3 separate regions of the Homo sapiens genome follow, and regions 1 and 3 are each linked to region 2. The links come from fine-mapping of genetic effects on gene expression. A gene starts in region 2. Each other region holds a variant in brackets. All regions are shown on one strand. Distances are from middle to middle. Region 1 overlaps MSANTD2 (Myb/SANT DNA binding domain containing 2). Region 2 holds the start of ROBO3 (roundabout guidance receptor 3). Region 3 overlaps CCDC15-DT (CCDC15 divergent transcript).

What was found.
Region 1: its variant is fine-mapped to the expression of ROBO3 in whole blood (INTERVAL, PIP above 0.99).
Region 3: its variant is fine-mapped to the expression of ROBO3 in whole blood (INTERVAL, PIP above 0.99).

What each region holds. Positions count from the first base shown.
Region 1 is chr11:124,780,105-124,788,285 of GRCh38, forward strand. The region is part of intron 1 of MSANTD2 (Myb/SANT DNA binding domain containing 2); the gene reads right to left. Among named protein-coding and RNA genes, the nearest start is that of MSANTD2, 16 kb to the right of the region's middle. The variant C/G (reference allele first, on the strand shown) is at 3,319.
Region 2 is chr11:124,860,550-124,868,730 of GRCh38, forward strand. It overlaps ROBO3 (roundabout guidance receptor 3), which reads left to right and starts at 4,883. Exons shown (of 28, transcript NM_022370.4): 1 at 4,883-5,188. The coding sequence starts at 5,029. RefSeq lists enhancers at 2,358-2,859, 5,199-5,875, 7,925-8,181.
Region 3 is chr11:124,943,104-124,951,284 of GRCh38, forward strand. It overlaps CCDC15-DT (CCDC15 divergent transcript), which reads right to left. Exons shown (of 3, transcript XR_948134.3): 3 at 6,089-7,456. It overlaps LOC107984406 (a long non-coding RNA gene), which reads left to right. Exons shown (of 2, transcript XR_001748429.3): 2 at 297-487. Among named protein-coding and RNA genes, the nearest start is that of CCDC15-DT, 6.8 kb to the right of the region's middle. The variant C/T (reference allele first, on the strand shown) is at 4,433.

The sequences.
Region 1 (8,181 bases), 80 kb before region 2:
GTTACTGTGAGCATAAAAGTAGGAAAGACAATATCTTATGTAGCATACATAAATAAAAAAACATTTCTGCACACAGTAAGAAAGATGTTAAGAATCTAGCATAAATTTCTATGTACATCTTTTGACACAGAGCTGTAACTAATGATTAGGAAATTACTTAAGGCAAAATCCATCTGGGGCCAGCAGAACTTTTGCTACCTTTTTTCTTAGGTTTTCTGTTCATTGACATCTGACAAACTGACTTGCCAATCCCCTAAATCCTTTAAAACCAACCAAACAAAAAAGCCCCAACCAAGTAAAACCAAAAAGAAAAATGTAGCAAACTTGTTTCACACTTACTGCTACAGAACAAGTTTTGGCAAATACAAAATGTTTTTATTCTTCAATCTTTTGCTTTTCCTTTCCAGGGCAGAAGTTCTTAACCTTTTTGAGTCATGGATCCACTCCTCAGAAAAATGCACACATACACAACCTGTCCCATACGATTTCAAGGGGGTACCTGGACTCACTAAAGAACCCATACAAGAACGTCGTTAAAAAATTCTGCTCTGCATTATGTAGTTCTTTCCTCCATAAAATATAACATACATTAGTTTGAAACCCTAAAATAAGGTAAACTTGTATCTTAGATTTTATAGGAGATTCTAAAGATTGGAACAATTACTTTAAGTACAATTATCAGTTCACTCACTATTCTGTTCATTTAGATAAAGCAGCATTAATTTCCTTTAAGAGGTAAATTAGCCAAATTCCCGTTTCTTGAAGGAAATAATTTCTATCAGTAAAAGCATACAAGGGCCGGGTGCGGTGGCTCATGCCTGTAATCCCAGCACTTTGGGAGGCCAAGGTGGGCGGATCACCTGAGGTCAGGAGTTTGAGACCAGCCTGGCCAATATGGCATAACCCCGTCTCTACTAAAAAGACAAAAATCAGCCAGGCGTGGTGGTGGGCACCTGTAGTCCCAGCTACTCGGGAAGCTGAGGCAGGAGAATCACTTGAACCTGAGAGGTGGAGGTTGCAGTGAGCCAAGATCGTGCCACTGCACTCCAGCCTGGGCGACATGAGGGAGTCTCTGTCTCAAAAAAAAAAAAAAAAAAAGTGAAAGCATACAACGATATTACTTTACTCTTCTAAAAAATATAGCACTTCTTTCTACCTGCTGGGCAAGAAATCTTTTTTCTGAAGTAATAATTAAGTGATATTAAATGATTCGTTATGCTGATTATCTGTTCCAACTGCATCACACAGTACTTGATCACTTATTGTCTGATTAACTTATCGATATAGATGCCAGATAAACTACCTCAAGTAACAACTTAAAACAGAAAAACACACATCCAGAAACAAGTATAGTAAAGTAAGTCTTGACTACGTTCCTTAGTAGTCTCTATGGCTAAGCTCTCACATCTTCCAGCTTTAACACTGCCTAATGTCTAAAGGGTCTCACAGGAATAGGCAATGTCTACAATAATTCAATCCTCAACCCAATGGGATCACAGTCTAATTTATGACTCTATTAAAACTGTTCCTATTGTGATCATCAATGTCTTTTTTTTTTTTTTTTTTGAGACAGATTCTCGCTCTGTCGCCTAGGCTGGAGTGCAGTGGCACAATCTGGGCTCACTGCAACCTCTGCCTCCTGGGTTCAAGTGATTCTCTTGCCTCAGCCTCCCGAGTAGCTGGGACTACAGGCACCCACCACCACGCTCGGCTAATTTTTATATTTTTAGTAGAGACGGGGTTTCACTATGTTGGCCAGGCTGGTCTCAAACTCCTGACCTCAGGTGATCTGCCTGCCTTGGCCTCCCAAAGTGCTGGGATTACAGGCGTGAGCCACCACGCCTGGCCAATGTCTTCTTAATAACTGAATGAAGCTCAAACTTTGTCCTTAACTCATTTAACTTCCCTGCAGCATTTGATACTCTTCATCACCTGCTGATATCACTGTCTTTGGCAAATGTCTCTTTATAACACTTTTTGTAATATACTGATCCACTAAAGGTGGGTGGAATTGCCTAAGGTTCTAATTACAAACTAGGCTCCATCTTCTAAACATTATGGAGCCAGAATCAGTGGCTCATGCCTATAATTCCAGTACTCTGGGAGGCCAAGGCTGGAGGACGCTTCAAGGCCAGGAGTCAAGACCAGCCTGGTCAATATAGCAAGACTTTGTCTCTACTTAAAAAAAAAAAAAAAATTAGTCTGGGTGTGGTGGTGTGCACCTGCAGTCTCAGCTACTGGGGAGGCTGAGGCAGGAAGATCCCTTGGGCTTAGCAGGTAGAGGCTGCATTGAGCCATGATCACGCCACTGCACTCCAGCTTGGGCAACAGAGTGAGACCCCTGTCTCTAAAAAAAATAAAAATAGAAAAACGTAATACAAGTTCTGAACATAAAAGAACCTCAGAGATCATCTAGTTCATCTTCCTCACTTAACAAATGAGGAAGCAAGGCCCAAAGATAAGTATTCCTTTAAGAGGAGTTTGGCATATGAAAATTATCAAATGCCACTTAAGAAACTTTAATGTTTCCTAAGAAGTTATTTCACTAGATTGTAAGCTCCATGAGGTAAGGATTTTATCTATCTTGGTTGTCTCTATTCCCCAAGCCTAGAACAGTGCTAATCACATGAGGCTTATTCAAAATATATATTTATTCAATACATAATTAAGCTAATTTTAAAGTAGTAAATCACTAGCAAGAGGATAAAATTTTTCTTAGCAAAGAACATCAGAAAATTCATTGCTTAACTAAAATAAATTATCAAATCAATGAATCTTGATGGGCGGGGCTCCTGAAACCTTTTGAAAATAGCTGGGCAAGGCTATTTTAAAAATATCTATCATTCTTGTTGTTATACCTTTCTTTGGGCGGGCAGGCCACGTGCCAAAGGGAGCTCTGCAGCCCTGTCCAAATTTTATTTCTTATGCCTTACAAAGTAAACAAGCAAATGAAATAGTCAAGAATGTAAGGTAGTTCTGTCAAAGACAGGAAGGGGGAAAGACTCGATTGCTTTCTGATTTTAATCGGGTCAAACAGAATGACCACCACAAACGAAGAGATCTTACCTCTCTGGAGCCTCAGTCTTTGTGGGGAACTGTCCAGGACTGAATCCTATCAGCTTGCACTTCATTCTGAATCTGGCTATCAATGACTCACTCACTTTGTGTTTATAACTGGTCAATACTGCCTCCATGAGAAGAGATTCTTGCCTAGAATATATATTAATAATTCAGGGCCAGGTCCAGTGGCTCAAGCCTATAATCCCAGCACTTTTGGAGGCCAAGGCAGGCAGATCGCTTGAGGCCAGGAGTTCTAGA[C/G]CAGCCTGGCCAACAGGAGATACCCTGTCTCTTCTAAAAATACAAAAATTAGCCGAGTGTGGTGATGCACACCTGTAGTCCCAGCTACTTGGGAGGCTGAGGCATGAGAATTGCTTGAACCCAGGAGGGAGAGGTTGCAGTGAGCTGAGACTGTGCCACTGCACTCCAGCCTGAGTGACAGAGTGAGACTCTGTCTCAAAAAATAAAAATAAAAAATAAAAGAAAGTAAAAACAAAACTTTAAAAAAATATAAAATTCAGGAAATTTTGATTGTCAATGAATATCAAGTTCTAAGTTTTCTAGGTTCCTTCATGCTAGCAGCTGAGGGTCGTGCCCATTCAGATTACTAAGAAAAAAACCCTAAAGAAGGACAATACTAATTGTTAAAAACAAACATCTTCCATGGCTCAAGGAACTCAATTCATGTAACCATAAAGCTTCTGACCCTATGCTATGTGTGCTTCTCATGGACACTCATACAATGATCTCAGATGAGCAGTAATACTTGTAAAGGTCACACCTAGCATGCATGTTCATGTATAAGAGCTTCTTTAGGGTACAAGAATCCTTCAAGACAAGGAATTCTCAAGTGCTTTTCTATTTACAAGAATACAGGTCAAAAAAGTAGGGTATACTGAACTATTTCAGTATATAAGCAGCAATAGGTAGTAGCTACAGTCACCAAAGATAGCAGATAACACTATTTGTCTAGAACTTCCTCCTCACCTGAAAGGGAAAAAAAAAAAATCAGTTGTTGGCAAAGAACTGACTGGGATTAGAGGCTATTTTCATTTGACCTCCTACATCACCTCTGAAGTTGCTAAGTCAGCACCTCTTTGAATCTTTTTCTCAGTTCACACCTTGGGGGACTACATCAAAGAGGTATTCAGATACACTAAAAATGATACTTTTATTAGTATGTGATATCTAAAACACATGCAAGAAAATTATCTAAAATATTTCTGGCATAGCAGGGGAGAACCAGTCTTCGTTAAAGTACTCCCAAACACCCTCCACTACGAACTAATTATTCCATGGACAACCATGTCTAAAAATTAAACCCCCCCCCCGCCACCTCAAAAATCCGCACACAGCTTTACCATTACAACATCGTATTGCTTCCCAAATACGAAGGTGTTTCCATTCATGAGACCAATGTTTAAAAGGGAGACTGTGCAGAGCAGGCTTCCCCTGAAGCAGTAGGCCACTTTATTCCTTTCGTCTGTTGACCATGTGATTCTCTCAGTTCTGTAGTTATTTTCTCACTAAAAACTACCATCTATAGTGCAAAGATAACCTATAATAGAGATGTTTCCATTAGTAGATTTTACACATTTGGTTATGAGAAAAAGAATCCTGATAGGCAGATAAAATCATACAAAAACTAAGGTTATCTGAAATCTTCCCTCAAGACCTCTGGGTACAAACATTAAATCCAGATTCATTAACTTGTGAAAATGTAAACATTCAAAAAATATATATTTTTTGCATTTACACAGTGTAAACTACAGGTCACCAATGCAAGAAAAGAATACATCTTCATATCCTGACACATATCCTTTCTAAGAAAAACCTGAAAATAAGCATGTTTTATTAAAAGCAACTATCCTGGGTGATCTGAACTTAGTTAGGAAGTTGTTAGAAATAAATTCAGGCAATCATAACTATTTTTATAGCTCATTTGGTAGAATTTTTATATTCTATTCTTAGCTTTATAAAGACTGCTAAGAGAAATGACCATATGAAAAAATATTTCTGTACCTTCTACAAAAACCAAACATTTTCCTTACATGGCTCAACGTGCCATGTAATGAAGGTAAATCATAGCTACCATTTCCTGAGTGCCAACTGAGTGCTGAGATTTGGGCTAAGCAATTTACATGATCATTCCTACTTAATAATAATGTTAAAAGAGAGTGTCCCTGGAAAGAGAGTCGGAGGAGACTGTGCAGGTATGCTGGGGAAGGCTCTTGGGAACCACACATGTGAGAGACTGAGAAGCAGGGCTGGGCACAGAAAGAAGTTAAAGTAGAGTTGCAACAGCAGCCTCTGCTAATCCTACAATGAGGTATGGAACTCAGGTTGTCCTTCAGAGTTATACCGAATTGAGGCAAGGTTGGACCTTGGTATTTCAGCACTGACCAGTCATTGGATTCAGGCTGCCACCAGAGAGTGGGGGGCCCTCACCTTGGGTGAGACAGTTGCCTTGGGCAGAGTGAAATTCTGAAGAAATCAACCAGAAGCCACCAGCAGTCAGCATTCCAGACAGCTGGGGGGGGACTAGCGTCTCATTCCTGGAAGAGGGATCTGGGTAGCATGTTATATATATATTAAGATATATGTATCTTATGTATATATTACATATATATTAAGATATATGTATCATATTTATATATGGTACACCCCTATTTTACAGACAAGAAAATTATTAACAAGGCAGAGAAACATTAAGAGCTTATCCAAAGTCACTTTCAGTGTCTTTAATGTAAGTTCATCTTTGGTTTCAAAACTAAGACCTGGTATACTTCTCTTCAGAAGACACTGAAAATTATGGCAAGTCACTGTATTTACTTTTTTGCTACCATTGCCAGGAAGCTCATAGCTCATTTTAATATTTAGTTTAAGTAAACATATTTACCTAGGTTACTGCTATTTGCCCTGCATCATTTCTTCTTTTTTTTTTTTTTTTTTTTTTAGTATGGGGTCTGTGTTGCCCAGGCTGGAGTGCAGTGACTATTCATAGGGGCAAGCATTATGCACAACAGCCTCAAACTCCTGGGCTCAAGTGATCCTCCTGCCTGAGCCTCCCGAGTAGCTGGGACTATAGGAGTGCACCACCACGCCAAGCTGGCATTCTCTGTTTTCTTATTTCCTGATTCTACTTTTAGCTTTCTCAATATGCTGATATGTTTTGTTTGGTATATCATATATTAAAAAACAGTTCATCTCATCCCCATCATCTATCTCTAAGAAGCACCCAAACCATTTACACATTAGGTAAACAATGGCAGGCATAAGGTAGTGAACATTCCATAGCCTCCTTTGATAAGCCACATCCTTACCTGCTTTTACTGTCAAAAAGTAATTCTACATTGTGTTTCTGCTCCTATAATTCAAACTTACTTCTTTTTGGAGGAGTTGGTGATCCAATAAATGCCATCATTTATCTGAGATCTTGAATGAATGACTGAATGAATACAATTAAGTCTTTACTTATTAGGTTTCAATACTTATCTTAAATTCTTCCTCAGGACTTCCAAATCTCCTTGTGTTTCTAATCTTAGGAAACGATAAATTATCTCCAAGAATTTAAAAAATTCTTTTCATTTCAATGACAAGAAATATCAGCATAATGCTGTCCATCTGGGTGTTACTATATGATTTTGGTATCGTATTTATGAATGTTGATAATCACGTCGTTGCCAAAAACATGACTTCAATTGTCAAAATTTAATAAAGATGGGCTGATTCAGAAAAAGGTGATATAAGCAAGTGGTTAAGAAGAGCATGGGTTCCAGAGAAACACTGCTTGGTGTCACCACCTGCAAGCTTTGTGACAAATTAATCTATCTGTGCCTTAATTTCTTCATCTATATGGTGGGGCTGGTAACAGTACCTCCATCATAGATTTGCTGTATTAAATGAGAAAACAGCATTTAAAAGTGTCTGCTCAATTGCCTGCACTCAGTAAATGTTTGCATTATTATTATAATTATTACAAAAATGATACAGTCACACCATATGGAGACCAAGGGGCCTTATGAATTAAGGTTAGTTCAAATAAAGTAGTGCAGCAAAGTGTGGTATCACGAGGCGCAACACGGGTAGGAATAACATGTAGGAGTAACATACTCAAAAGAACCCTTACCCTAGCAATCAGTGTCAGAGTCATGTTGAGAAAAGCAAGCTTCAGCTAAACCACATCATCTAAAGCATCATTAAACGAATGCCAACTTGACTTTTCTTTTTTTGGAGTTGGAGTCTTGCTGTGTTGCCCAGGCTGGATGGAGTGCAGTGGCACGATCTTGGCTCACTGCAACCTCCACCTCCTGGGTTCAAGTGATTGTTCTGCCTCAGCCTCCCGAGTAGCTGGGACTATAGGTGTGCACCACCAAACCCGGCTAATTTTTGTATTTTTAGTAGATACGGGGTTTCACCATACTGGCCAGGCTGGTCTCAATGATTTTTTTGATTTTTCATTTTATTCAAAGTATTTCACACAACTGTTTGTGTTAACATGTGAACTCTATAGGTAAAAGGAGTTTATACCTAGGAGTACCTATGAAAATAAACATCTTTTTGCTCATACATTATTCGAGTTTCACAAACATCTGGCTATACTGCCATAGCTTCTTTGACTTTTTTGCTCAGTTCTTCCTTTATAGATAAAAGCCAATTAGTGCTGGGGGTGGTGGCTCCCAGCACTTTCGGAGGCCAAAGTGGGCAGATTGCTTGAGCCCAGGAGTTAAGAGACCAGCCTGGGCAACATGGCAAAACCCCATCTCTACAAAAAAATACAACAATTAGCTGGGCTTAGTGCTGCATGCCTGTAGGCCCAGCTACCAGGAGGCTGAGGTGCAAGGATCACCTGAGCCTGGGGAGGTTGAGGTGATCGTGCCACCGCACTCTAGCTTGGGCAACAGAGCAAGACCCTGTCTCAAAAAAAAAAAAAAAAGCCAATTAATTAATCATTTTGAAAGATTTATAGCCTTGGCAAGAATATGGTGACTAACACACTGACATATAAACCAATGGGGAAAAAGGAATCCTAACTACCCATGCAGAGTGAGGAATAGGCCTCACTCGCTGGGCAACCTGTTTACAAGAAGCAGAAGACAGGCAAAACTCAGCATGAATAGAAAT
Region 2 (8,181 bases):
ACAGGAAAATAAGGTATACTAAGTTAAATGTGTTGTCCCCCCTAAAAAAGTCCTACTCACCCAAAACTTCAGAATGTGACTTCATTTGAAAATGAGGGTTTTTGCAGATGTAATTAGTTAGGGTGAAGTCATGCTGGATTAAATTGGACTCTAATCCAATGACTGGTGGCCTTATAAGAAGAGGTAAGAGACACCGAGACACACACCCAGGGAAGGCCATAAGAAGACAGAGGCAGAGATGGAGTGATGAATCCTCAAGACCAGGAAGGCCAAGCACTGCTGGTAATCAGCAGATGCTGGAGGAGGCAAGAACAGATCCCTCCCTGGAGCCTTCAGGGAGAGCATGGCCCAGCTGACACCTTGATTTCAGGCTTCTAACCTGTGAGAGGATACATTTCTGTTGTTTTAGGCCACCTAGTTTTTGGTACTTTCTTACAGCAGCTGTAATGCAAAAGGAGAGAGAGAGAAGGCTAGTGGGCTCTGCAGGGGTAGTTGTGAGGACTAACTATTTAATCAGGTATAGTCACCAAGTGTATATTTATGGAAGCTTGCTCTGTATCTAGTTTTATAAAAAGAACCAAGAAAGCTCTTTTTCTCCCTGGACTTTGTTTTATCTGTATTGGGATGTGAACATTTCTGCCCAGTTGTCTCCAGATTTCCAGTCTTGGTAGAGTGTGTTGCAAAGTGTCTCCCCACAGTCTCCTCCACTGGAACCCTGTGGGGAAAGGGGGACTTTCATGCAGGGGGCCTTGGCTTATTATCTCAGCAGCTATAGGGGTTGAGCCAACACACTCTGGCTCCTGCCGGGGGCAGGCTCCTGCTGTCTGCTTTCCAGCTGGGTGCCTGCTCTTTGCTCTCTGATTCCCCCTCCTGTTTGGTTCTCTGGCCCCTGCTGGCTGGGTCGCTGCCCCCTGGCATCATCACTCTGAAGCCAGCAGCCCTGCTGGGCCATTCACAGGCATACCCTAGTGGGGGTAAGGGGCAGATGTTATTTCTTTGTCCCCCTCCCAGCAAACACACACACACACACACACACACACACACACACACAATCTCACACTCAATATGTATTAATGTCCTGGGAAGGGGTCCAGGCAGAGAGTGATGGCAGGCTACAGGCTCTGGGGGGATGCAAATGGACCGGACAGTGTGTGTGTACATTGGGGGGAGGCAGTGGTAGTAATGGGGGGTTGTCTTCAGACTGCACTCCTGGGCAATTACATGCCAGCAGCTTCATCCACTACCAGCCGGCATGCAGGCTTTAGACCACCAAGAAGCCTCCCCATATGGCCCCAGCTTGGCCACTGAAAATTCCCAGCCACATTCTCTGGCCGATATGCTGGCACTAGGCCAAGAAAGTTAGCCTGGGGTAGCTGTTCTCTCCCCTAGCACGTGAACACACACACACACACTCACACACCAGTGGGGGGTGGGATGGAGAGTTCCTTTAGAGGCTCATGATTCCCAAAACACCACTCTTGTGTAGGGTTCCTGCCTTACTCATAATCACTTGCCCTTCCCATTTCCCATGTTCCTCTGCAAATCCACCCACCCAAAATACCACCATAGGAAAGAAATATTCCTCTTCTATATTACCTCATCAACTCCTGGCCCAGGGCTCTTTTCTAGGGCTCTACCTGTGAACCCACACATGCACACACACGCAAACACACACACACACACACACTTCTTCCCATCAGATGCTGTAACCTTATCAGAACAAACTTAGCTCCTAACTCTACAAATTCAACTCGCCCCAACCTCCCTGCTTCCTGCTACTCTCTCTTCTTTCTGCCAAATCTCCTTCAAAACCTCTGTTTCTTTTTCTTACCCTTTCTAAAGTCTGGACTGTACATATTGTTGGTAAAACTCTGGGAAAGAAGTAGTTTCCTGAGGTGGTAGAAGAGAGGGTCTCTAAACCCAACTCTGACTCTTTCTCCAGCCCAAGGTGGAAATTTATAAGTCAACAGAATGAATGCACCCCGGCTGAGGCTCCTCCAATTGCAGGGCATCTACTCAGTGTTTTAGGTGCTGTACAGGCACTTACAGTTGACAAATTAGGAAATGGACATAGTTGCAAAGAGTTGCATACCCACTCCAGAAAAAGGACAAAGAGTTGTCTTGGTAATTTTCAGAGAGCAGAGCAGGCAGTGAGGAGACTAGTAGGAGGCAAACCCCTTTCAGAACTGCCTATGGGGGTAGCCAGGAGAGAAGCTGGATGTGGACAGGGGCAGGGCCAGTTTCTAGGCTGCCTGTCTGACCCTCAGTAAAGAAGAGAAGGTGGGGAGAGGGCTGCAGAAGAGCTGGGAGGTGTGACTTCTGCTGGGCCTTCTCTGCCCACTCTCTGCTCCACTCTGCCTAGCCCAGGGCCGTAAGGACACTAGAGAATGGGAAGGAAAAGGGAGGGAACTTAGGTTATGGTTGGGAGGTATTTATTCTCTGATATCCCCAGTTGGGAGAACTCAGCCCTCTTGGCTTAGATCTGAGTTTGGTTTAAAAGGAGAGTATCATCAAGATAAAGAGAAGTACAAAGAAGGAAAGAGCAGAGAGAAACAAGAAAAAGTGGAGAGTGAAAATTAGAGAGAGCCCAGACGAGGTGAAGTGTAGGAGAGACAGCAGATTCCTGGAAAGTAGAGTGGCCCGGCTATTTGTCCAGCCTCCAAACCCACGTGACAGGGACTGTGAAGCAGCCTTGCTCACGGGTTGAGCCGCGCCTCCGCTCAGGGAACCCTGAGCAAATACGCCCTGATCCCCACATAAAGGGCCAATTAACTGCGCCGTCTCCGGGAACAAATCCGCTAACAGGGTGACAAGCCCCTAGACGCTGGCAGGCCCTGTGTTTGCGGAGAGGCCAGCCGGGAGCAAATCAGGGCATTAGGACCGGGCAGGAGCCGCATGGTGGGAGGGTTTCTGGCCCCCTCCGCCCCAGAGTAGGGCCTGGTACCAGGACGTGGGGTTTCTATCCCGATTCAGCCTCTGCTGTGATGGAACCCAGGTGACCGCGGTCAGCAGGGGGCGGAGCAAAGGGCCCCGGAGCCTCGAATCTCACAGGTCAGAGTAGATCAAGCACTCCAATTCCTCCTTAACAGATGGGAAAACTGAGATCCAAAGCGGTGACGTCTTGTACTTGGCAAACGTAGAATTAGAACCCACTTCTGTGTTGGTCATTCCTGAAGGATAGATTTCGGGTGGGAAATACATCCCTTACTTTCTCTCTTATCTGAATACCACCCTGGAGCGAGGAAGGGAGGGGCGTCAAATCTCTTATTATCTTCTTGCTTTTGAAAGGATGTGTCTCTAGCCCGTCTCCCACCTACCCCAGTCCTCAGCCTCAGGGTCTGCTCGGATTTATGTCTTCCCTGGGGGCTCCAGGGCCCTAGTCAGGCACCTGCAGATGAGGTGCTGAAAAGGACAGCTCCCAGGGCGCTGCGTGGCGGTGGGGTGGGGGGTCCATCCGGCCCCACCCCCACTCCCACCTACCCCCTCCCCCACACCTAGTGCTTCCAGCCTTTCTACGTCCCGCCCAGAACTGCTAGGGTTGGAAGGCACCTAAACACCCATAGTTGGAGGCTCACAGCCAGGCGCCTGGACTGAGGAAGGAGGCTTGGAACAAGCCCCCCACCCCTTGACAATGTCTCGGGTTCCCTTGAACAAGCTCTGCCTGAAATATTTCAATTCTTGATTCTGCTTACTCCAGAGTCTGCGACTGTATAGCACCCACCCCTCTGATCTCGACCCCTTTGGGGTCAGAAGCAGTCGCCCCATGAAAGTTGTCTCATCCCAGAACCTGACGGCTGAGCCAGAACTCTGGCACTGACTCTTCAATCAGCAGGGCCTTACCTCAGGTTAGGAATGCCCCGGCCTCTCTCTTTCCCTGATACCCCAAAGCCATCTCCTGTCTAGGAAAGTGAGTTTGTCGAGGTGGGTCTTCAGGTAGAAAGAACTCCAGAAAAGTCAGAAGCAGACCGCGACTGGAAGTGGGAGGTGGGAGTAGGGGCCCATGGTTTTCTTTTCGCCCCCCCCAGGAAGGACGACTGCTATCCGATTTGAACAGATTTGCACTAATTTTGCAGCAATCCCACATGCCTTTACAAAAATAATATTATCTTTGTTTTTGTCCTAGAATCCTTGGTTCCATTTCAGTCTCCTCAAAAACGTAAAACAATTTAATAAAAAATGTCAAAGCAGGGTAATGTAAAAGGATTCAAATAAATGACAGTTGCCTGGGTTTCCCTGGCTTTCAGTCTCCTACAGGAACTCCTAGATTAGGGCGTTTGGAGCAGGACTCCCGGGTCAGGGCGCGCCGCTCCATCCTCTGGCCTCCTGGCTGCAGACCAAAGGACCAGAGGGCAGAGAGGTGGACCTGTCTTGGAATTCTCTGCCTACTCCCAACTCTTGCTGCAAACCACCCCAGTCTCCTGCCCTTCCGTCGCCAAACCCCTAGACTTGGGAGGGAATGGAAACCAGAACTTTGGCAGCAAGGAGCATTGCTTGCGCTTTGCCTCAGTTTCCAAAAGGTTCGGGAAAAGAGAGGACAGATTCCTGTTCTAAAGTTGGGCAGAAGGGCAGAGTCCGACAGAGCCTCGTCCCTCATCTTGGGTGCTTTGAGACAGGGAAAATCTCTCGCCGCGTCCAGAACGGAACGCTGGGCTTGGGGTGCGGGGCGGGGACTCCAACTCGCGCGCTACGCTACTCGTGTCTCCTGCTCGGATAGTGACTGTAGAGGTAAGGGTGGGAGGGTGGAGGGAGGCGGATTAATCCCTTAATTACGCCGTGATCGGCGTGGCACCTGCTTTCCGCCTGCCCAGCTCCCAGGGGACTCCGGCACTAGGGGGTGGAGAGAAGGACGAGGGAAGGAGGAGGGCACGAAGAGGCACCGACCGTACCCAGGCGCACCGGCAGGAGAGCGGCACCGTGGCTGCCGCAGCGCGCAGAGGCTGTGGAGGGGCTTACGGCTCCCAGCCCACGGGTCTCAGACCCAGGGGCTGGGCCCCCAGCCCCCAGTCCCGATCCCAGCTGGGTCGAGCCATGCTGCGCTACCTGCTGAAAACGCTGCTGCAGATGAACTTGTTCGCGGACTCTCTGGCCGGGGACATCTCCAACTCCAGCGAGCTGCTCTTGGGCTTCAACTCCTCGCTGGCGGCGCTCAACCACACCCTGCTGCCTCCCGGCGATCCCTCTCTCAACGGTGAGACCCTGCCTCTTGGGGATATGGGATCCTGGGATGGGGATGAGGTGAGAGGGCGGCGTGGAAGGGAAGGAGAAGCGCTCCTGTCCCGAGGTCCGGGATTGAGTGGCGCCTCCCAGCGCCTCCCTGGGTCGTGGGGTCTAAGGGATAATTTGGAGCTTCGAGCACATGAGTGGGGGTACCCGCGGGAGGTCGAGGGCTTGGGAGAAGATGGCTACTGAGTCTTTTTACACCTCCTTCCCTTCCCCTACAACGCCCACCCCAGGTGAGAAGAACCGTTGCTGGTAACGGGCAGGGAAGTCCGAGCTAAGAAAGGCCCGGGCCCAGCGCAGGGAGGGCAGAGGAGGGGGCACAGTCTCCCGCCGGCCTCGGCCAAGCCAGGTCACTCGGTGACCCACCCAGGCAGCTGGTCTTCGGAACCCCGAAGTTTCCCAAGAACTCACTTAGGACCAGAGGAAGCCAAAATGCTGGATGTGTTTGCTACGGAGGGGATAGGGGCGGCGATCATTTTAAGGAAACTTAGAAGTTTGTCTTTCAGCGGCGGGACTCTCAGCCGGCCCACCCCGGCAGAGCTGTGGCGGGCGGGCGGAGCTGGCGGCGAGGTCGTTACCGCTAATTACGGTGATTAATAAATGACTGGGACAGCGCGCTCTCCCCTAGCGCCGCGGGGAAGCTGCGGGAGCCGGCCGCCGCCAGCCTGCGGAGAGGCCGGAGCGCGCCCCCTGCCTGCCGCATCGGGAACCCCCGCTTTACCGGGCGCTTTCGCGTGTGGTTCCCTCCAGGTGCACGCGGTCCCCATCCCTCTGCCTCGACCCACTCGAGTCTAGTGACGAGCACTGTGCTGGGGACTCGAAGGTGGAGAGAAAGGAGACCCTGGCAATATGTGTGTGTTCATGTGTGGGGCACATCAGGTGCTGAGGGAGGAGCCCCAGAGCCTCATTAGCATGGCCATTAGCTATTCATTAGGCTGCAGTCGAAGCATCTCCTGAGACCGGGAAGGGTAGAGGGGGAAATTCCAGGGAAAGGGCGCCTGCAGCTGTGTCTACAGGAATTAGGGGGAAAAGGCCGACCAGAAGGGTGTGGTCCGTATAGAAGGATTGGGGAGAAAGACGATGGGGGAGGAGCCCGATTCTCCAACCTCTTGACCCTCCTAGATTTCCAGGAGGTTAAGCACAGATCCCTTCTCGCTGGCACCCCGCAGAGTCCCGCTTCTGCTCACCTAGCGCGTTTACAGAGTGTTTTCACCATACTTTGTCTCATCTAAGCTCGAAACTTAGTGAGGTATGCAAGGAAGGTGTTGACAGACACATTTTGCCGCCGAGAAAACGCTTTATAGAGTGAATGGTGCCCTAATCGTCACAAAAGCAGCATGAAGCAAAACCTAGCGATAACAGATCAGTCCATTTCCATTACACCTGAGGGCTATACCAAGGGGAAAAAAGAATATTGGGGCCTGGTAGAATTTGATTCAGGTAGAGACTGTAGGAGCCAAGATAAGGTGCATATGCTGGGAACACAAGCCCTTAAATAATGGCAGAGTAGTGACGTTTATCCCCCAAGGGCTTTACATACATTATGGTCTTAGAGCAACCCTATCACTGCTCTCACATCACAAAGAAAGAAACTGAGACTGAGAGAAGTTAAATAATTTGCCCAAGTTCTTACAGCTAGGAAGCGTCAAAGTCTGAGATTCCAGCCCTGGTTGGTTCAACAGCAACACTTGCTCTCAATCACTCCAGTGTTGCTCACCACGGGGTGTTCCAAAATTGGGAATGGGAGGAGATGGAGGAGAAGAGAAGGGTGAAAAGCAGAGATTTCCATTTGGAAGGGAGGAGATGGAGAAAATTACTCTCCCAAGTGGGACAGAAATCGATCTTCTTGACTCCAGGCAATTAAAATAAACTCAGAACAGCGCCAGCACGGGTCAGCCTGTCCAGCTTTGTCTACAACAGAACTTCTAAGAGGGGGGGCAGGAAATGAAACCCAATCTCACAGGCGGGCTGGAAGCGGGAGGTTCCTGCAGATTTTGGAACAGGGTAGGAAGGGGGGAACAGGGGGAGGGGGCAGGGGGCAGAACAGATGCTTGAAGTGGTCCCTGGTTATTTTACAGCAGGTTATTAAAGGCTGCAGTGGCACCTACTGGCCGCCACGGGTTACAAATCCACTTTTGTTGGCTGGACTAGGGGCTGAGAGTGCCGGAGTATAACAGGCTCCGGGATCCTAACCGTGCTGCAGAAGGTGAAACAGGCCAAAGTCTGCAGGCCAAGTGACAGGTAGGACAGAATATGTGGATGAACTGATCGGAGTGAACAGGGGAAGTAGAGGAACATCAATCAGTAGAATAATCTATTGGAAACTATGCACCTGTCAGGAAAAGGAGCCTTACTAACATTTCTACTGCTATTTGCGTTCAATTCCTGTGACTTCACAGGACCCTTGAAATGAAGCGTGATTATCCGGGGTGTCAGTAAGAAGGGCCCTGTGCCGATTCATAGAATCCAGGTTGACAAGCCCTTCTAGGCCCGGCCCTGTCACTCCCGTCTTGCCTTTCATAAGGGATCCCAAGCCAGTCCACATTCCCAATTTCACTGAGCCAGGACCTTGCAGAAGTCAAGAACAAACTGTTGGCTCCAGTGCACGGTTTATGGTCTTTCACTGAGCAAGGACGATCCGTGAACCAGTGCAGGTGGAGATGGAAACCACTGGGCAGGAGGCGAGGGAGCGGTCTACTCGCCAAGCGTGGTTCAGCCACTCCCGCTTAAACTTGGCAGGAGAGGAGACGGAGGTCTCTAGGTGGTCCAGAAAGCCGGCCTAGAAGTTTGTGTCCCGATCCCTCTACTAACCGGCCTGTCTGTAGGCATCTTCCTTTGAGACGAGGAACGCGGAACGTCTGCCAATAAGGACATATTGGATCCTGCAGAGGGAGAGGGTAGGCAGGTGGGGACTGAGCTCCGCAGAGAAGCATAGGAGATGGAACGACCAGAGGATTCTCT
Region 3 (8,181 bases), 83 kb after region 2:
TTCCGGCCTCCTCAGAAAGTGAGAGGGACTCAGGCTTGTGTCCATGGTTGCTAAACGTGCTCTATTCAGCCACTCTCCAGAGGAACAAAGAGGAGAAATTAATTGGTATTAAAGGGCTGGAAAGATCCAGCTTTTGCTGACCTATTTAAGATGCAGCAAGGACATTCTGGAGAATATCTCTGGAGTTCTGTTCTTGTAAAGCTTCAGTGCTTAAATACAAACAGGTTGAAAAATCATGGGGAAGCCACAAATTACACCCCAACTCATGAAAGCCTTCACTGTTTCCCTTCTCCTAGATCCTCAGATGGTGTCCACCCACCAACCGTGTCAGGGGAAGGATTCGCTGCCCTCTGCCGTCGTTCACCCTCCTACCAAAGAGGGAGGCTCAGAAATGGGAATCAGCTGGCCAGCATCTGATAATTGCCTACTGTGTGAAGAACACTCTATGTTCCAAACATTAATAAAAGTGGTGGGATGTGGAAGAGGAGGAAGGCGGCACATTCAAAAGTAATAGACGACACCATCCCTGGATCCCTGTCTAGGAGCTGAAATATATTATAGCTGGGAAGGCTGCACCTACATCTATAAGCAAGTATAATTGATAAAACATTTGCATTGCCCTTTACAAATTATCTTTTAGAATATTATTTTATTTAGCCTTCTAACAACGCTGTGCAGTGGGATTTTTTTTTCCATTTTTCAAGGAGGATCATGAAGCTTAGAGAGGTTAAATAACCTGCTCCAAGTCACACATTTTACAAGTTGGCACAGCCTAGACTCAACTGTGCTTCCTGTCTAATGTTCATAATGCTGTACCCCTGAAAGAGGTTTCCTTCACATTTGCAAGTTGGCACAGCTTAGACTCAGCTGTGCTTCCTGTCTAGTGTTCATAATGCTGTACCCCTGAAAGAGGTTGCCTTCAGCCAGGCCCAGAAGTAAAAACTAAGTAGGAAAAGGAGAGTTCTGAGACAAGATGTGAGAAAAGGGATCAGGCAGGTGACAGGACCATAAAAAAAAAAAAAAGCTTAGTAAGCAAGGGAAACTGGGCCCCCACAGGTTAGGCCAGGGACACTAAGAAGATAGATTTGTGATACACAGGATTCAATATGGGGAGGGACCACATTTCTTAAAAGGAGGCCCTAGCTAAGTTGTCAGCAGAGGTGTCTTGAAGACAGCCCCCAATTTTCCCCTTGTTGCAGTACTTACAGGATTTGGCTTTGTCTAGTTTAAAGATCCATGCCAAAGTCAGGCCTCCAAGATTCTGCATCTGGTTTGTGGCCCGACAAACTAAGGAATGTGATTTGTCAAGATCATTTGATTGTAAGTGACTGAAGTTCAACTGGAACTATCTGAAGCAAAAAGGGAAGAATTTCTTGCATTATGTAACAAAATTTTTCAGGGAGCAGGAATAATTGGAAATAAGACAGTATTTTATATCTGTGCTGTCAAATATAGTAGCCATTAATTAGCCCCGTGTGGCTAGTGGGACTGAGGAAATACATTATAAATTTCATTTAATTGTAATTAAACTTAACACATGTATCTAGTGGTTAACATATTGGACAGTGCAGCTTGTCATGCGGGCAGGAGAAGAAGACTCTTGATGGAACTAGTTAAAAAATAATCTTGGCAAAAGGCCATGGCTTAGGTCACATGCACAGCTCTGGATCAATCACTGTAGCAAGGAGACTAGAACACTATCCCAGGCTGGGCCATGTACTTAACCCCACAGTCACAGGTGGGGCCATTACTAGAAAAAGCGGGAGAAGGGATGCTGGGAAGACAAATCAAAATCTTCTAAGGTTTTATGACTCTATCTTGCTTCCTAAAAAAAAGTTAGCAAGCATTTACTGAAAGTCTATTATGCATGATATATTTTACATATGTAACATTACTTCTCACAAAACACAAACAAACCCTCAAGGGTCAATTGTTATTACATATGTTACATATCTAGAAATAAAGACTTGGATAATGTGACTTGACCACAGATAGTAAATTGCAGAACTGGAACATAAACCCAAGTTTAGCTCTAAAACCCCTTTCTCCACTGTAATATGCTATCCCCAAAGATTTGGGATATAGAGAATGTGACTATTAATAGTAGATAATTTAAATAATCATAGCTGAACACACACAAATGAATAACTTGGCTTTCTCCAAATAGTTATCTAGAAAGCCTTACTGCTTTTTTTAAAATAAAATCTATTTCCATTTATTTTTATTGTGGTAAAATATATAAAATATACAGTTTATCATTTTAACTTTTTAAGGTGTCCATTTCAGTGGGATTTACTACATTCACGTTGCTGTGCAGCCATGACACTCTCTTCTCCAGAACTTTTTCCTCTTATTTTCTTTTTTAAGGCCTCATGTCTTACACCTTTTAAGGGTTACATTTTTTAAATTCCTTTTTAAAAGTTGCTTTTAGAGCCTGCAACATATTTTTTAAGTATCTTTAATGATTACAATTTTTATACTTCAAGAGATTTTTTTTTAAAATCAAGCATAGAGTGAATAATATAAGTAACAAGGATAGATAAAATAATTTTGGCTAAAACTAGCTTTAAAGTAAAAGTCTCGCCTGACCAACATGGCGAAACCCTGACTCTACTAAATACAAAAAATTAGCTGGGTGTGGTGGTACATGCCTGTAATCCCAGCTACTCGGGAGGCTGAGGTGGAAGAATCTCTTGAACCTGGGAGGCAGAGGTTGCAGTGAGCCGAGATCGCATCACTGCACTCCAGCCTGTGCGACAGAGTGAGAATTTGTCTCAAAAAAAAAGGAAAAGTCTCCTACCTTAGTCAAGCTTCTTTGGCTTCAAAGAATAGATATCCCAGTGAAGTACCATCAACCATCAGAGGAGAGGCATATTGCAGGAATACATAAGACCTGGATCTGGAATTGAAGGGCTCAGTTTTGAGGCCGCTCCAGGAACCAATTTTTGTAGGTAGCTCTGACTCATTCTGCTCGTCTCTTTTAGTCTCTAATATTTACCAATGGACTTATCTCAGAGCTTGTCTATGGTCTACGTTACAAATAATATAAAACCTAATGTAAATTGGCATTAATAATAAAGAACTTTATTGGCTTATGTATTTGGAAAGACTAGAGATGGGGTAGCATTGAGATAATTCAGAGGCTCAACAGTGTCAACAGGGAACAGAAAGAAGGACTTATTTATTTATTTATTTATTTCTAAGATAGAGTCTCGCTCTGTCGTGGAGGGAGTAGACAGCCAAAAAGCCCTTCCTTGGAAGATCTGGATAGTGCATCTCTCAACTTCCTAGATGAATACTTGGTAATGTAGAGAGATGCTGAAATCCCTGTTAATTTTCTTTTAATCACACACCAAGAGTAAGGAGAAAAAGACTTCTGCATCCATGGTAAAACTAGAGAATCTTTTGCAATAAGTAGTACAGCAGATGCTATTGAGAAAACTGGGCTTAACTGCAGCAATCTGCTATTGGTGCCATTTACAGTGAAATGCTACTGCAGAAACCTGGTCTGCACAGGCAAGCAGAAGGACTCTCTAGTTATCCTAGTTAGAAAGGTTATTTTGAGAGGTGGATAAGGAGGAGGAAGAAAAAGGACAGTGCTATGGTCCATTTTCAGGAAATAGCCCAGAATATCAGTTAGCCTTGGAACACCCTGCTGAAACTTGGGAGACAGGCTGAAAGTGGCCATGACTCAGCTGCCTGAGGCTTCATTCCCCAAAATCCAGTTCCCCTGAGAGTAGAGATAGGCAGGTTTCTCACTTCTATAGATGTTCTCCTTAGGCTATGCCCTGAGAACTGACATGTGACCAAGTTTTCTAATTTGTTACAGGTGTGGGTCAGCCAGCAACAAATAGGAAAGTAGTGACCAAAAATGCAAATTGCTCCCTCATGCTCATGAAACAATCAGTTCTGTGTGGGGTGGACTGCTGCCAAGGACCCAGTGACTCGGGGCTTTGTGCAGACATGTCCAGGGATCCCCCAGACACAGAAAAGGGATTATATCCAACTCCGATGAGGAGTGCTCTGGAGCAGGGCCTCAACACTTTGGTGCCAGCAATATCCATTCTTTTAAGTTCCTGAAGAAGGTAGACATTTCTAAGCAAACAGTTTCCTTGCTGAGAAACCAACTCTGGTTATATAGAATATAAGCATTCCTGAAGAGGTCAGAAAATGGGAACAGGGCCTTAGATGTGAATTCTCTGGACATATCAAGAATGTAGATTATTGGCTGGGTGTGGTGGCTCACAGTTGTAATCCCAGCACTTTGGGAGGCTGAGGCAGGCAGATGACCTGAGGTCAGGAGTTCAAGACCAGCCTGGCCAACATGGTGAAACCCCATCTCTACTGAAAATACAAAAATTAGCTGGGCATGGTGGCAGATGCCTGTAATCCCAGCTACTGGAGAGGCTGAGGCAGGAGAATCGCTTGAACT[C/T]GGGAGGTGGAGGTTGCAGTGAGCCAAGATTGCACCACTGCACTCCAGCCTGGGTGACAGAGCAAGACTCTGTCTCAAAAAAAAAAAAAGAATGTAGATTATTATGAAACCACTGGCCCAGGTGCTAGTGGGAGGCACAGACCTTGAGGTGGTGGGTTGAAGAAAGCAAGGAGATACCTAACAACACTTCTTCCCAAGTGTTGGTGTGTGAGTATGTGTCTGTGTATGGAGGTGTGCAATTCAACCTCTCTGTTGCCTTCTCAAGTATTAGGTTGGTGCAAAAGTAATTGGGGTTTTGGTACCAGCCACTGCAAAAACATACCAAATTGTAAAGACCATGAACACTGTGAAGAAACTGCATCAACTAATGGGCAAAATAACCAGCTAGCGTCATAATTTGACAGGATCAAATTCACACATACAATACTAACCTTAAATATAAATGGGCTAAATGCCCCCACTGAAAGATACAGACTGGCAAATTGGATAAAGAGTCAAGACCCATCAGTGTGCTGTACTCAGGAGACCCATCTCATGTACAAAGACACACATAGGCTCAAAATAAAGGAATAGGGGAATATTTACCAAGCAAATGGAAAGCAAAAAAAAAGCAGGAGTTGCAATCCTAGTCTCTGATAAAACAGACTTTAAACCAACAAAGATCAAAAGAGACAAAGAAGAGTATTACATAATGGTAAAGGGATCAATACACCAAAAAGAGCTAAATATCCTAAATATATATGCACCCAATACAGGAGCACCCAGATTCATAAAGCAAGTTCTTAGAGACCTACAAAGAGACTTAGACTCCCACACAATAATAGTGGGAGACTGTAACACTCCATTGTCAATATCAGACAGATCAACGAGACAGAAAATTAACAAGGATATTCAGGACTTGAACTCAGCTCTGGATCAAGCACACCTAACAAACATCTACAGAACTCTCCACCCCAAATCAACAGAATATACATTCTTCTCAGCACCACATCGCACTTATTCTAAAATTGACCACATAATTGGAAGCAAAACACTCCTCAGCAAATGCAAAAGAACGGAAATCATAACAGTCTTTCAGACCATGGTACAATCAAATTAGAACTCAGGATTAAGAAATTCACTCAAAACCGCACTACATGGAAACTGAACAACCTGCTCCTGAATGACTACTGGGTAAATAATGAAATTAAGACATTAATAAATAAGTTATTTGAAACCAATGAGAACAAAGACACAATGTACCAGAATCTCTGGGACACAGCTAAAGCCGTGTTTAGAGGGAAATTTATAGCACTTAAATGCCCACAGGAGAAAGTGGGAAAGATGTAAAATTGACACCCTAACATCACAATGAAAAGAGCTACAGAAGCAAGAGCAAATAGCAGAAAACAAGAAATAACTAAGATAAGAGCAGAACTGAAGGAGATAGAGACAGGAAAAACTCTTCAAAAAATCAAGGAATCCAGGAGCTGGTTTTTTGCAAAGATTAACAAAAAAGATAGACTGATGACAGGTTGATGGGTGCAGCAAACCACTATGGCACATGTATACCTATGTAACAAACCTGCATGTTCTGCATGCGTATCCCAGAACTTAAAGTATAATAAAAAAAAAAGTAATTGTGGTTTTGGACCATGAATTTTAAGTGATTATAACTAGGCTCAGATATATTTTTATTAATCAAAATAGGAACCATTACAATCAACACCTTTTTGCCAATGAGAAATAAGTTCGTTTATTCCTGTAGTGTAAGAAGCTGTGCTTCCAGATTCGCCAAACTCTTAAAAAGTATTTTCTGCATCCTGCTGGTTGTAGAAGTGTTTTCTCTGCAAAAAGTTGTTGAGATGCTTGAAGAAGTGGTAGTTGGTTGGCCACAGGTCAGATGAATATGGTGGATGAGGCAAAACTTCATAGATCAATTTGTTCAACTTTTGAAGGGTTGGTTGTGCGACATGCAGTCGGGCATTGTAGTTGCTGTGGAGAAGAATTGGGTCCTTTCTGTTGACCACTGTCAGCTGCAGGTGTTGCACTTTTCAGTGCCTCATTGATTTGCTAAGCATACTTCTCAGATGTAATGGTTTCACTGGGATTCGGAAAGCCGTAGTGGATCAGACTGGCAGCAGACCACCAAACGGTGACCATGACCTGTTTTTGGTGCTTTGGGAAGTGCTGTGGAGCTTCTTCTGGGCCCAACCATTGAGCTGGTCATTGCCAGCTGTTGTATAAAATCTACTTTTCATAGCACATCTCAATCCAATCGAGAAATGGTTCATTGTTGTGTAGAACAAGAGAAGACAACACTTCAAAACGATATATTTTTTTTATTTTCAGTTGGCTCATGAGGCATCCACTTATCGAGCTTTTTTACCTTTCCAATTTGCTTCAAATGCTGAGTGACGATAGAATGGTCAACATTGAGTTCTTAGGCAACTTCTCATGTAGCTATAAGAGGATCAGCTTCAATGATTGCTCTCAATTGGTCATTGTCAACTTCCCATGGCCGGTCACTATGCTCATCATCTTCAAGGCTCTCAGCTCCTTTGCAAAACTTTCTTTCTTTCTTTCTTTCTTTTTAAATTGAGACGGAGTCTTGTTCTGTCACTGGAGTGCAGTGGCACAATCTCAGCTCACTGCAACCTCTGCCTCCTGGGTTCAAGCGCTTCTCCCACCTCAGCCTCCCGAGTAGCTGGGATTACAGGTGCATGCCACCATGCCCAGCTAATTTTTTTATTTTTAGTAGAGATGGGGTTTCACCATGTTGGCCTGGCTGGCCTCGAACTCCTGACTTCAAGTGATCCGGATGCCTTGGCCTCCCAAAGTGCTGGGATTATAGGTGTGAGCTGCTGCGCCTGGCCATCCTTTGCAAAACTTCTTGAACCACCACTGCACTGTACGTTCATTAGCAGTTCCTGGGCCAAATGCACTCTTGATGTTGCAAGTTGTCTCTGCTGCTTTGCAGCCCATTTTGAACTCGAATAAGAAAACTGCTTGCATTTGTTTTTTGTCTAACATAATTTCCATAGTCTAAAATAAACATAAACAGCAAGAAGTCATTAGCAAAAAAATAAAAGTGAGAAATGCCCATTAAACTGATGTATAACATAACCACATTTATTCAAGCATGTATTCCAACATCAAATGGCAAATTCCAACAATGAAAAACCACAATAACTTTTGCACTCACCTAATAGTAGCTGTTTTCTGTTCCTTGCCCCTCTGGGTGGAGGTGGGATGGGTTTCCTTCTTGCTATTCAGTTACTCAGTGCTTTTGCTAAACCACATCCTCCCTTTTTCTTAACCTCACCTCCAACTTTGAACCTCATGTCACCAGAATATACCATGCTTGGGTTTCCAAGCTATACTTACCCACCAACCTCCAAGCCTTTTCAAGATTGTTGCTTCTGGCTTTCTCCAACATCATTCTTGTTATATTTTTTGGTGATTTCAGTATCCTCATGGATCATCCAATCAATGCTCTGGTGTTTGGTTTCTATGACCTCTTCTCCAGTGATCTTGTTCTTTAACCCACCTTAGCTTTCCCTCCTTTGGTCATACCATAGACTTTGACAGCACCAATAACCACAACCTCTGCATACACTCAGCTCCAAGCAGCCTACTCTCAGACCACCTCTTATCTTAGCACATTCTTTTGAGTATCCTGTTCTAACAAACTTTAGACCACCACAGGAACCTACAACTTCTTGACTCTACCAACTTTTCATAGTCCCTTACCTCCTACTTCTCTCATT